Regions from separate parts of the Homo sapiens genome. Here region 2 is linked to region 1. Evidence: fine-mapped expression QTL. A gene starts in region 1. The other region holds a variant in brackets. All regions are shown on one strand. Distances are between the middles of the regions.

Region 1 (5,380 bases):
AGATGCTTTAGGCTTATTGTATATCCATGTTGCATATTTCCTGGCCCAATGTTAGAATCAGCCATTTCTCCAAAGGGCTTTGATTCCTTTTATGGAAAATGGTATTAGAAACCAAAATGTGGCAGTTGGTGTGTTTGTTGCTACTGGAATATCATTGCTTCTAAGCCCACTCAGCTGACAGAGGAAGGAAATATCTGTGCACACTAACCTTTGTATGTATACATATATGTGTGCATGTATGTATGTGTATATATATAGCCATATCTACATCAAGCTAAAAATGAATTCATACTGATGTTTCAAACTCTAATCTATTACTACATAGATCATTCTAGTCTCTTCCTAATATTTTAAATAGGTATTCCTTTGAATTTCTTATAAATTGTTAGATCAAGATGACAGTTCAATATTTTGGCAGAGATAATCCAAAGGAGGTAGTGTGCTCTTTTATCACAATGTGTATAACAACTGTCTATTCATGATGTTAGCAACCAATGATGATCATTCCCTAGATTCCATTAATTCTTTAAAGTTTAACAAATGTTAAAATTTTGATTGGCTCTGTCCTTCCTCTTTGATTACCTGGAATACTTTGTGAAATAAATTTCCTCTCATTAACTATTTGGTGGCCCTGAGGAAGAGCTCATATAAAAAAGGCAGGATAAATGCTTAGTTCTTTTCATTATTATTTTTAAAATAATAGATTGGTTTTCTAGAATCTTCCCATGCTGACTACAGAGTTATTTTTGGTTCCAGGTACCATTATGAACTTGGAACAGCTCTTTAGGTACATGGCTCAGCCCTCTACCTGCAGCCTTGAGTCCTGGGCATTCTGCCTTAGGATAGTGGAATGGGGGATGGTTGGTGGGGGTGGGGCAGAGGCAGAGAAGGATTTGAAAGGGATGGCAAGGTTGGGGGCTCTAAAGGACTTCCATATTCATCATATTCATCTAGAAAAAGCTCTGGTCTCCAAAATCATGAAAACTCGTACAGCTGTTGCCTTGGTTTTACAGTTTTTCATGTTGCCTTTGAAATCTTTGAAGTCATCTTGAAAAGTCCATCTTTAAAGTCTCAAGTAACCAGGAAAGAAAGAACAGCTTGAAGATCTGGAAAGGGCATGTTTGATCCTAAATCATTAAAGGTAGCCTATCTAGGAGAAAAACCAAGTCGCCTTTGGAATGCTAGTGGAAGGGGGAAGGCCCCGGTTCTCCACCCTGGTTATTAGTTACCTAAAACATATTTTAAAAACCGCATATGTCCCTGTAGGACCCCATACATTCTGATTCAACTGGTCTGTGGTAGGAAAAAGTGGCAGCTTTTAAAAATTTTTAGAAGCTTTTTGCGAGGTGACTCTAATGTTAAAGCAGGGCTATTTCCAAACCCCCTGGAACTCTAGCAGGCCAGTGACAATTGTATCACACCTACAGACTCATCACTTTAATGCAGTTGCTTCATGTTATTAGATAATATCCCTGCCCCACAACGCAGAAGACTAAGCTAGGAAAGATGATGTCATACAGCTCATCCCTCCTTCAAACACTGGAGCGTGATGAGTGCAGCTCAGTTCCAACACTTGGGTCTTTATTTATTATTATTATTTTTTGTAGAGACGGGGTCTCGCTATGTTGCCCAGACTGGTCTCAAATTCATGACCTTGAATGATCCTCTCACCTCGCCTCTCACAGTGCTGGGATTATAGGTATGTGCCCAGCCCTGGCTCCTCAACGTAAGACATAGCACTGTGCCCCAACCCTCAACTCCAAGAATGGCTACATTTACTTTCTGCCTGGCACTGTTCTAAGTGCCTAACATATCTCAACATCCCTAATAGGTTGGTATCATCTCCACTTAACAGATGAGCTGCTGGGATCTGAGAGAGTTAAGTGACTTGTTAAGGTCACAAACCTGTTTCTGGGTGGGTCCGGACTCTTTCCCACCATATGCCGTCACTTACAGGCTGTGAGTTTATGCCCAGCCCCCCTCAAGGAGCTGCCTCCTGCTTTCTATTGCATAATCAATATCGACACCTGGTGTAGGGGCGCTCTGCAGGGTGGGGAAGGCCTGGCCTGGAGTGAGGGATCCTGCATCTCAGCATCAGGCCCTGAGTAGGCCTCTGCCCTTGTGGTAGGGTAACCCACCCTCCTTCATAGCTCAGAGGTCTGAGGGGGTTTGAGGGAAAGACTAGAAAGCCTAGGAGGCTTCTTCTATCTCTCACCCCTCCTCACTCCCAGTCCTGTGCCACAGGATTTCACTCACAGCTCCTTCCACCCCCACCCTTCCCCTGAAAATCTCACTGCCCTGTGACTTCTCTATGTGCCACTCCCTGTGCGTCAGACCCCCACGATCAGCTGCCCACTGCCTATGGCCACCCCAATTCCTTAGAACTACACTTATCACTGCTCACCCTTCTCCTACTCTCCCCCTCTCAGAAAATGACACCACATCCAGGAAACTCGGAACCACCACTAGCCCAGCGCTCCCTCTTCCCCATTCACTCAGTCACCAAGTCCCCTCAATTTCACCACTCAAGATAGTTGTCAGACCATGGCGCCTGTCCATCTCCATTTCCCTAGGATAGGCCTTGGTGTCTGAGGCCAACCCTGCCTCATTTCCTCCTAACCCCCACCCAGGCCTTGTGCTTTGTGTACCACCACACCCAACCAAAGGTAGTTATTACTTCTTTGGCTCCCAGCACTCAACTGAGCGCCCCAGCTCTTCCTCACCTGCCGGGACACTCCAGCTGACTCCAGATTGCGACGCAGGCGTTTACGTACCAGCCTTTCTCCAGGTTCAGGGCGCTGCCACATCTTCAGCCCCGACCCGCCGCAAGTCTCATTTCCTCCTAACCCCAACCCAGGCCTTGTGCTTTGTGTACCACCGAACCCAACCAAAGCTAGTTCCCTGACTTGCTCTTTTGGCTCCCAGGAGCCTTTAGGTACCGGCCTTGCGCCAGGTTTAGGGCGCGGCCACACCTCTAGCCCCGCCCCACCGCAGGCCCAACCCAGAGGCTGCTTTCGGTTACCCTAGGGTTCCTGGGCCCTGGACTTCAACCCGGTCTGCAAGCCCCGCCCTGATTAGCTGCCTCCCGCACCGGTCGCGGCGCCCCGCCCCCAGGCGCCTAGGTTCCTCCCCTTATCCCTGCAGGGATTGGGCCTTGCAGCACCGCCCAGGCTCGGATTGGTCCGAGGTGAGACCCGCCCCTCTGCCCATTGGGCCTTCGGGACAGCAGAGGAGCAGTGTCCGGCCATGGCCGGAGCCCGCAGGCTGGAGCTAGGCGAGGCCCTGGCGCTGGGGTCGGGCTGGCGTCATGCGTGCCACGCTCTCCTCTACGCGCCGGACCCTGGGATGCTCTTCGGCCGCATCCCGCTGCGCTACGCCATACTGGTGAGAAGGGGGCGCGCCCGGCCACTTTCTGCCTGAGCCCCGCACCCTCTCTGGTGGTCTCCTCTGGGGCGCCCCTGCCAATCCCCGCTTCCCCCTCCCGCAGATGCAGATGCGCTTCGATGGACGCCTGGGCTTCCCCGGCGGATTCGTGGACACGCAGGACAGAAGCCTAGAGGACGGGCTGAACCGCGAGCTGCGCGAGGAGCTGGGCGAAGCGGCTGCCGCTTTCCGCGTGGAGCGCACTGACTACCGCAGCTCCCACGTCGGGTCAGGGCCACGCGTTGTGGCCCACTTCTATGCCAAGCGTCTGACGCTCGAGGAGCTGTTGGCTGTGGAGGCCGGCGCAACACGCGCCAAGGACCACGGGCTGGAGGTGGGACCAGCCTGGGACTCTGTCCCTTTCCCAATTTCCTCTTCTCCCAAAGCTTTCTCTCCCCCAAGAAAGCATCCCTGGAGAAAAGTCTTTGCCCCTCTGACCTTGCCCTCTCCCCAGCTTTCTTGGTGGAGTTGGGATCGTGATCATCTATACTCTGAATTAGTACTGCCAACCTGGGCTTTCTGTAAAGGTCTTTCCCACCCTTTACCAGGAGAGATCCTTTCTAGAACACACTCATCCATGTCTCTCTGCTGTTCCCTATTGACAGTGTGATAGATTATCACATTATCTAGGTGTGGCAACCTAGGTTTTATTCTTGGGGTTTGCTTTTCTTGTGTAGGAGATGTGGCCCTGATATTTCAGGCAGGGCTAGTAGATAGATTATGTATGAAGGTGGTTCTCAAAATTTGGCAGGTAGCAGAATCATCGGGGCGTCTTATTAAAATAGCGATTTCTCTCAGCATTCCTGCATTGGTGGTGGGGCGGGGGGAGAGGAAACCTGAGAATTTGTAGTTTTCAAAAGTTCCCAAATAATGCTGATGCAAATAATCTGAGGACCACATTTTGACAACCACTGGTGAAAGGGTATGAATACATCTTTGAGGCAGTAGCCACTAGAGGTTTAGAAGCAGATGTGGGAAAGATTAATTGATAGAGCTAGATAATATGTTTTGGGTCATTTTCCTGCAGAAGGTTGGGCCACTAGGCTTTAGTGAGGTGTGAGCCTTGGGCCTGGTTCTGCTGGAGTATTAAGGGGTGAGGCCTGATCTGCTGGAGAAAGGATGGAGTTAAGGGAATGAGCCACCTGGGGCCCTAGTGTCTCCTGTCTCCTTCCTTTTACAGGTGCTGGGCCTGGTGCGAGTGCCCCTGTATACCCTGCGGGATGGTGTAGGAGGCCTGCCTACCTTCCTGGAGAATTCCTTTATTGGCTCTGCGCGGGAGCAGTTACTTGAAGCTCTCCAGGACTTGGGACTGCTGCAGTCTGGCTCTATTTCAGGCCTTAAGATTCCAGCTCATCACTAGAGGCAGCCCTCCATGGACCCATGAAAACTGAGATGAGGACCTTGGTACTAGGGAGGGAGGGAAGGACGTGGGAATGTTTTCTTATTGGATCTGAGAGATGATACATGATACCAGATGAAAAGAAGGAGAAGTGTGTACCATATGTTTTGAGCAGAGGACCCTCCAACTTATGGCATCAGGGGCAAAAAGTCACAGCTTATCCCAGGCACCCTGGCAGGTTCTCAGAGCCTGCCTCCTCCCTGTTTATATGCGTACAGCCTGGTAACCCCCAGGCATGCAAATATACAATCTGTAACAACACACAGCCTGACACCTTCCCCTGGTCATGTCCAGTTTAACCTTGAAGTGGCATTTGTCACACTACCCTGGTCCCTGATTGCAAGGAGCTTCTGAAGCAAGGGTGAATCCTTCCCACACTCCTCCATGGTTGCCCTCCAGGGTCTAGCCCAGCCTATTTGTTAGGGAGGATAGAGAAACAGAGCACCCCCTGTGCTTTCTGAAAATAGACTTGCTCTTGTCTTGAGTGGTGACCAAAGCAGTTGGCTCTTAAAAGGTGGGAGAGCAGCCCAACCAATCCCCAATCCTTTTCTTCTGAAA
Region 2 (5,380 bases), 150 kb before region 1:
GGGTTCCTGTGGAGTCCACAGAAAGGAAACCACAGAGAGGCGAGATTCCATATTGCCCATTTCAGTTGGGTTCAGTATGGATTTTGAGAAATTATTCTATTTAAAATAAATAAATATTTTAAACTTGAGTATATATTTGCAATTGTCTAATACAGTCATACACTGCATAACAATCTTTTGGTCAATGACAGACTGCATGTACAATGGTGGTCCAGTTAATGAAGCTGAAAAATTCCCAACACCTAGTGCTATCATAGCCATCATAACATTGCAGAGCAACATAGCCACTCACATACTTGTGGTGATGCTGGGTAAATAAACCTACTACACTGCCAGTCATATAAAAGTGTAATGCATATATTTATGTACAGTATAGTGATGACAAATGACTGTTACTGCTTTATGTATTTACTATACTTTTTTTTTTTGAGGTGTGGTCTCACTCTGTTACCCAGTCTGGAGTGCAGTGGCACGATCTCGGCTCACTGCATCCTCCACCTTCCAGGCTCAAGTGATCCTCCCACTTCAGCCTCCCAGTTAGCCGGGACCACAGGTGTGCGCCACCACACCCAGCTAATTTTTTGTATTTTTGGTAAAGATTGGGTTTCTCCATGTTGCCCAGGCTGTTCTCGAACTCCTGACCTCTGGTGATCTGCCTGCCTCGGCCTGCCAAAGTGCTGGGATTATAGGAGTGAGCCACCATGCCTGGCTTGCTATACTTTTTATCATTTTTCTAAAGTGTACTCCTTCTACTTATTAAAAAAAATTAACTGTAAAACAGCCTTGGGCAGGTCCTTCGGGAGGTATTTCAGAAGAAGGCACTGTTATCACAGTAGATGGAGGCTCCGTGTGTGTTACTGCCCCTAGAGACCTTGTAGTGGGACAAGATGTGGAGGTGGAAGACAGTGGTATCAGTGATCCTGACGCTGTGTAGCAGTAGACTAATGTGTATGTTTGTGTCTTCATTTTTAACAAAATAGTTGAAAAAGAAAAAGAAAGAAAAAATGCTTATTGACTATCTCCTAGTTAGGAGAGATATGAAAAAAAGAAAATATTTTCGTACAGCTGTACAATGTGTTTGTGTTTTAAGCTAAGTGTTATTACAATAGAGTCAAGAAGTTTAAAAAATGTACAGTAAGCTGCTTAATTTATTATTGAAGAAGGGAAAACATTTTTTATAAATGTAGTGTAGCCTAAGTGTCCAGTGTTTATAAGTCTGTAGTAGCGTACAGTAATGTTCTAGGCCTTCGCATTCACTCACCACTCACTCACTGACTCACCCAGAGCAACTTCCAGTCCTGCGTGCTCCATTCATGGTAACAGCCCTGTACAGATGTGCCATTTAAAAAATCTTTTATACTGTATTTTTACTGTACATTTTTAATGTTAAGATACACAAGTACTTACCACTGTATTACAATTGTCTACAGTATTCAGTGTAGTAACATGCTGTACAGGGTTGTAGCCTAGGAGCAATAGGCTATACCACATAAACATAGATGTGTAGTAGGTTATACCATCGAGGTTTGTAATAAGTACACTCTATGATGTTCACACAATGATGAAATCACCTGAATGACATATTCCTCAGAACATATCCTCGTTGTTAAGTGATGCATGACTTATTTCTTCCTGGTGTTGGGTATTACAGGAAAAACTACTGAGTGTTTGCCTTATTTGATACATACTTTGCATCCATTATACTATGTAATGTTCACAACAATTCCATGAGATGAATATTATCATCTTTATTTTATAGATGAGAAAACTGAAGTGCAGAAAGCTTAAATAACACAGTGTTACAGAGCTATTGCTAGAGGCTTGATTTAAATGCAGATTTTGTTTTTATGCCAAAGCCAGCATTCTAAAGGAGTGTTTCTGAATGTTGGCCTCTCTAGCTAGGTTGGGGTGTTTTTCAAACTGCAGGTTGAGAGGTCAGTTTAGTGAGTTGCAACCAGCATTAAAAAAATAATTGAACAGGATGAAAAACACCAGAGTGTGTCATATGTAGTTTGGGTAAATAGGTCTTGGTGTATGAAACTTTTGTTTCGACTATAAAGATATTTATAAACATACATATATAAGCACATTTCTGTGCACTGGGCAACAATGTAAATGATATTTCTTACCATGTCGTAGTTTGAAAGCCAAGGGAGTGGACAAGGAGGAATGAAGATAAAGAAAAAATGGGAGAGCAAGAGGGAAAAATATGAATGAGTGAGAGAATGAATAACTGTCAAAGGGACAAAGAGACTCGAGAGGGAGAGGAAGTAGAAAAGAGTGGGGAAAGAGGGAGAATGGACAACTCAGAGAAAGAGACACAGAGATTCAGGGAGAGTTGAGGGTGGGCAAGAGAAGGAAGACATCATATGGTTCTGTCTTTCATTCCACTCAGCAAGCACATGTCCCTACTTGATGGCAGAACTGGAGATCTCTCAGGAGATTTTAGTTTTCATACACTTCTCATGCTGTGATTCTCTTGTCGTTCTCAGTGTAAGTAAAATGAAGATCTTTATTAACATGGCTTCTAGTCATTACAGCAAAAAGACACCTGCACGTTTATGTTTATCACAACACAATTCACAATTGCAAGGATATGGAACCAACATAACTGCCCATCACTGATGAGTGGATAAAGAAAATGTGGCATATATACACCATGCAATACTACTCAGCCATTAAAAAAAGAATGAAATACTGTCTTTTGCAGCAACCTGGATGGAGCTGGAGGCCATTATTCTAAGTGAAGTAACTCAGGAATGGAAAACCAAATACCATATGTTCTCACTTATAAGTGGGAGCTAAGCTATGGGTACACAGAGGCATGCAGAGTGGGATAATGGACTTTGGAGACTCAGAAGGGAGGAGGGTGGGAGGGAGGTAAGGGATAAAAGACTACATATTGGGTACAGTGTATACTACTCGGTGAGGGTGCACTAAAATCTCAGACTTCACCACTACAAAAGTCACCCATGTAACCAAAAACCACTTGTATGCAAAAGGTATTGAAGTTCTATATGCATGTACATATGTGTATAGGTATGTTATATATATATGTGTACATACAGACACGTGCAGGTGTCTTCTTGATATAATGAC[T/A]AGAAGCCACGTTTAATAAAAATAATATATATTATTTCAATATAAATAATAAAAATAATAAAAACTATGGCTTCTCCATAACAGTATTCTATCTCATCTGTTGCTCAGCTGAAAATCAGTGATCTGAACTGATGTGAAAAAAAAAAATACGCTGTGTTGAAATTGCTGAGAGAAGGTATGAGATCCCTAGTACACTGCTTTCTAAGGAACTGGCAAAGGCAATTTTGAATATATGTAATTTTTGTCTTTTGAGCTGACTAATTTTTATTCTACTGTACAGCAGCCTTTTATGTTTTAGTGGGAAACCATAGATAACAAACACATTTTAACATCTTCTATTTCCAGGGAATTCTACATCCATTAAGTATCTTACTTTCAAAGGATTCTGGACTCATTTAATGAAAAGCCCATTTGTACAGACTTGGAAATTGAGTGAACATTTGTATGAAACTTCCCTGCATACCGATGCTTTCATGAGAATTCTATTACTCAATCTCAGCAGCCACTCTACTAGATTACACTTATGTTAATTTTATCACAGAAATTGGAGCTCTGTGAGTTTAAGTCTCTTGCACAAATTTTCATCTAAAAAGTGGAAGAGCTAGATTCTAGCCTTGATTTTCTGACCCCAAATTTCATATTTTTCCCACTAGACCAGAAATAGCAACAATAGATTGAAAAATAATGTGTTACAATTTGGAAGAAAAATTTTAATTTTAAGTCTGAGTATGGTGCAAAGTCTAAAATGCCCATTGTTTTGCTGCAGCTGAGTATTCTAATTTTCTCCTCCCCCAGCCCAAGGGTAGTTGTTTGGGTAGTTCTTTATTTCTAGCCCCCCATTAGTAAATTATATTGTTATGCTTTCTTGTGATCCATTCATGGCCTTTCTTCACTGAAGATTGTTATAAACACCAACTTTATTCTAGTTACTAACAATGTTGCATCAAGTAACTTGGGTAGATGCTTATTGTCATCAGCTTAGGTGGGTATTCTTTTTTAAAATAAGTGCTGAATGTAAGGTTGAGTAAGTAGGACCCACCAGAGTGAACTCCATCTCAAAAGCCATCATTACCTGTTAGAAAAGAATTGTGTTTTTCCCAGCTTGCCAAAATGATGCTGCTATATATCCTATTCATCTTGTTTGGTCCTACCAGTAACATTTAAAAAAAAAGAAATATCTAGGAAAAATGCTGTGGTAGTTTTGCTCCAACTTCCTATGCTAAAAACTTTATGTGTGTTGTGTAATAGGACCCTTCAGCCAGGACATCTTGTCCTACCTTTGCCCCTAAATTTCCTCATTTTTAATAAGGATTCATGCCTCCAAATGTCAAAATGTTAAAGCATATTATTTATTCTTATTTAATGATTTTTTTCTTACCTTCAAACGGTAGTTGCTAATGGAAATGTTCCTCCTTTCCTCTACTGGTTTTATTTTGCTGAGTGTTTATTACATTCAACCAAATACTTCCAGGAAGCTGAGATTCAGCTCTACACTCCATGGAAGCTTTGTCAACGCAAGCAAAATATACATCCCTGTGAAAAGATACAGTATTCTTACCTCATTATAATTTTAATAACTGGTAGTATCTGACTGTTTGTTCATTATTTCAGAGATCCCAGAAGACCCACTTGTGGCTGAAGAGTACTACGCTGATGCATTTGATTCCTATTGTGAAGAGAGTGATGAGGAGGAAGAAGAAATAGCGTTAGAAAGACCAGAGAAAGAAATCAGGAATGAGGGATCCCAGCCTGCTTACAGAACAAACCAACAGGTATGTAATGCTCCCTGTCGGAAGCCATGGAACTGTTCAAGGTACTGATTGGACTCTCCCAGAGAAGAAAGGAAGTCTTATAAGGTGAAGTTGGGGACATGGGGAACAGGGTTATTATAATAGCTACTTGTGGTAAGTCTGGCTTTTCAAGGTCCAGAGGCAGGCAGGGCCCTATGGAATTTGGAGAATCTGATCTGGACCATGTTGATGGGGGAAGAACTGGAGCATGCTGCACTTATTTGGGGGGTTGGGAGATGGCACACACCATATTCCCACTGAGGAGGGCTTCGTATACAGCTATTGAATTAAAAAATGCAAATATCTCTTTAGCAGAGAGAATGGCACTTTTTATATACTTTTCTGTCTGGTAATCATATTTTGGGGTCATATTCACAAATTGAATGCAAATAAAATTTGTAAAGACTGACTTAGTTTTGGGGATCAGAACCAAAGATCCTGGGCTTAGGGGATAATCTGTCTAGCTACTTTTAGCCTCTGAGGACACATTC

The links. PIP is the estimated chance that this variant, and not a neighbour inherited with it, causes the effect.
Region 2: its variant is fine-mapped to the expression of NUDT16 in blood mononuclear cells (TOPMed, PIP 0.99). The same link has a PIP of 0.9 or more in T cells.

What each region holds. Positions count from the first base shown.
Region 1 is chr3:131,378,559-131,383,938 of GRCh38, forward strand. NUDT16 (nudix hydrolase 16) reads left to right here and starts at 3,216. Exons shown (of 3, transcript NM_152395.3): 1 at 3,216-3,384; 2 at 3,488-3,757; 3 at 4,604-5,380. The coding sequence starts at 3,247. The coding sequence ends at 4,783. It overlaps NUDT16-DT (NUDT16 divergent transcript), which reads right to left and starts at 2,917. Exons shown (of 4, transcript NR_038976.1): 1 at 2,775-2,917. RefSeq lists enhancers at 2,525-2,794, 3,086-3,655, 3,656-4,224 and a silencer at 2,905-3,204.
Region 2 is chr3:131,223,818-131,229,197 of GRCh38, forward strand. It overlaps NEK11 (NIMA related kinase 11), which reads left to right. Exons shown (of 18, transcript NM_024800.5): 15 at 4,711-4,871. Among named protein-coding and RNA genes, the nearest start is that of NUDT16-DT, 150 kb to the right of the region's middle. The variant T/A (reference allele first, on the strand shown) is at 3,100.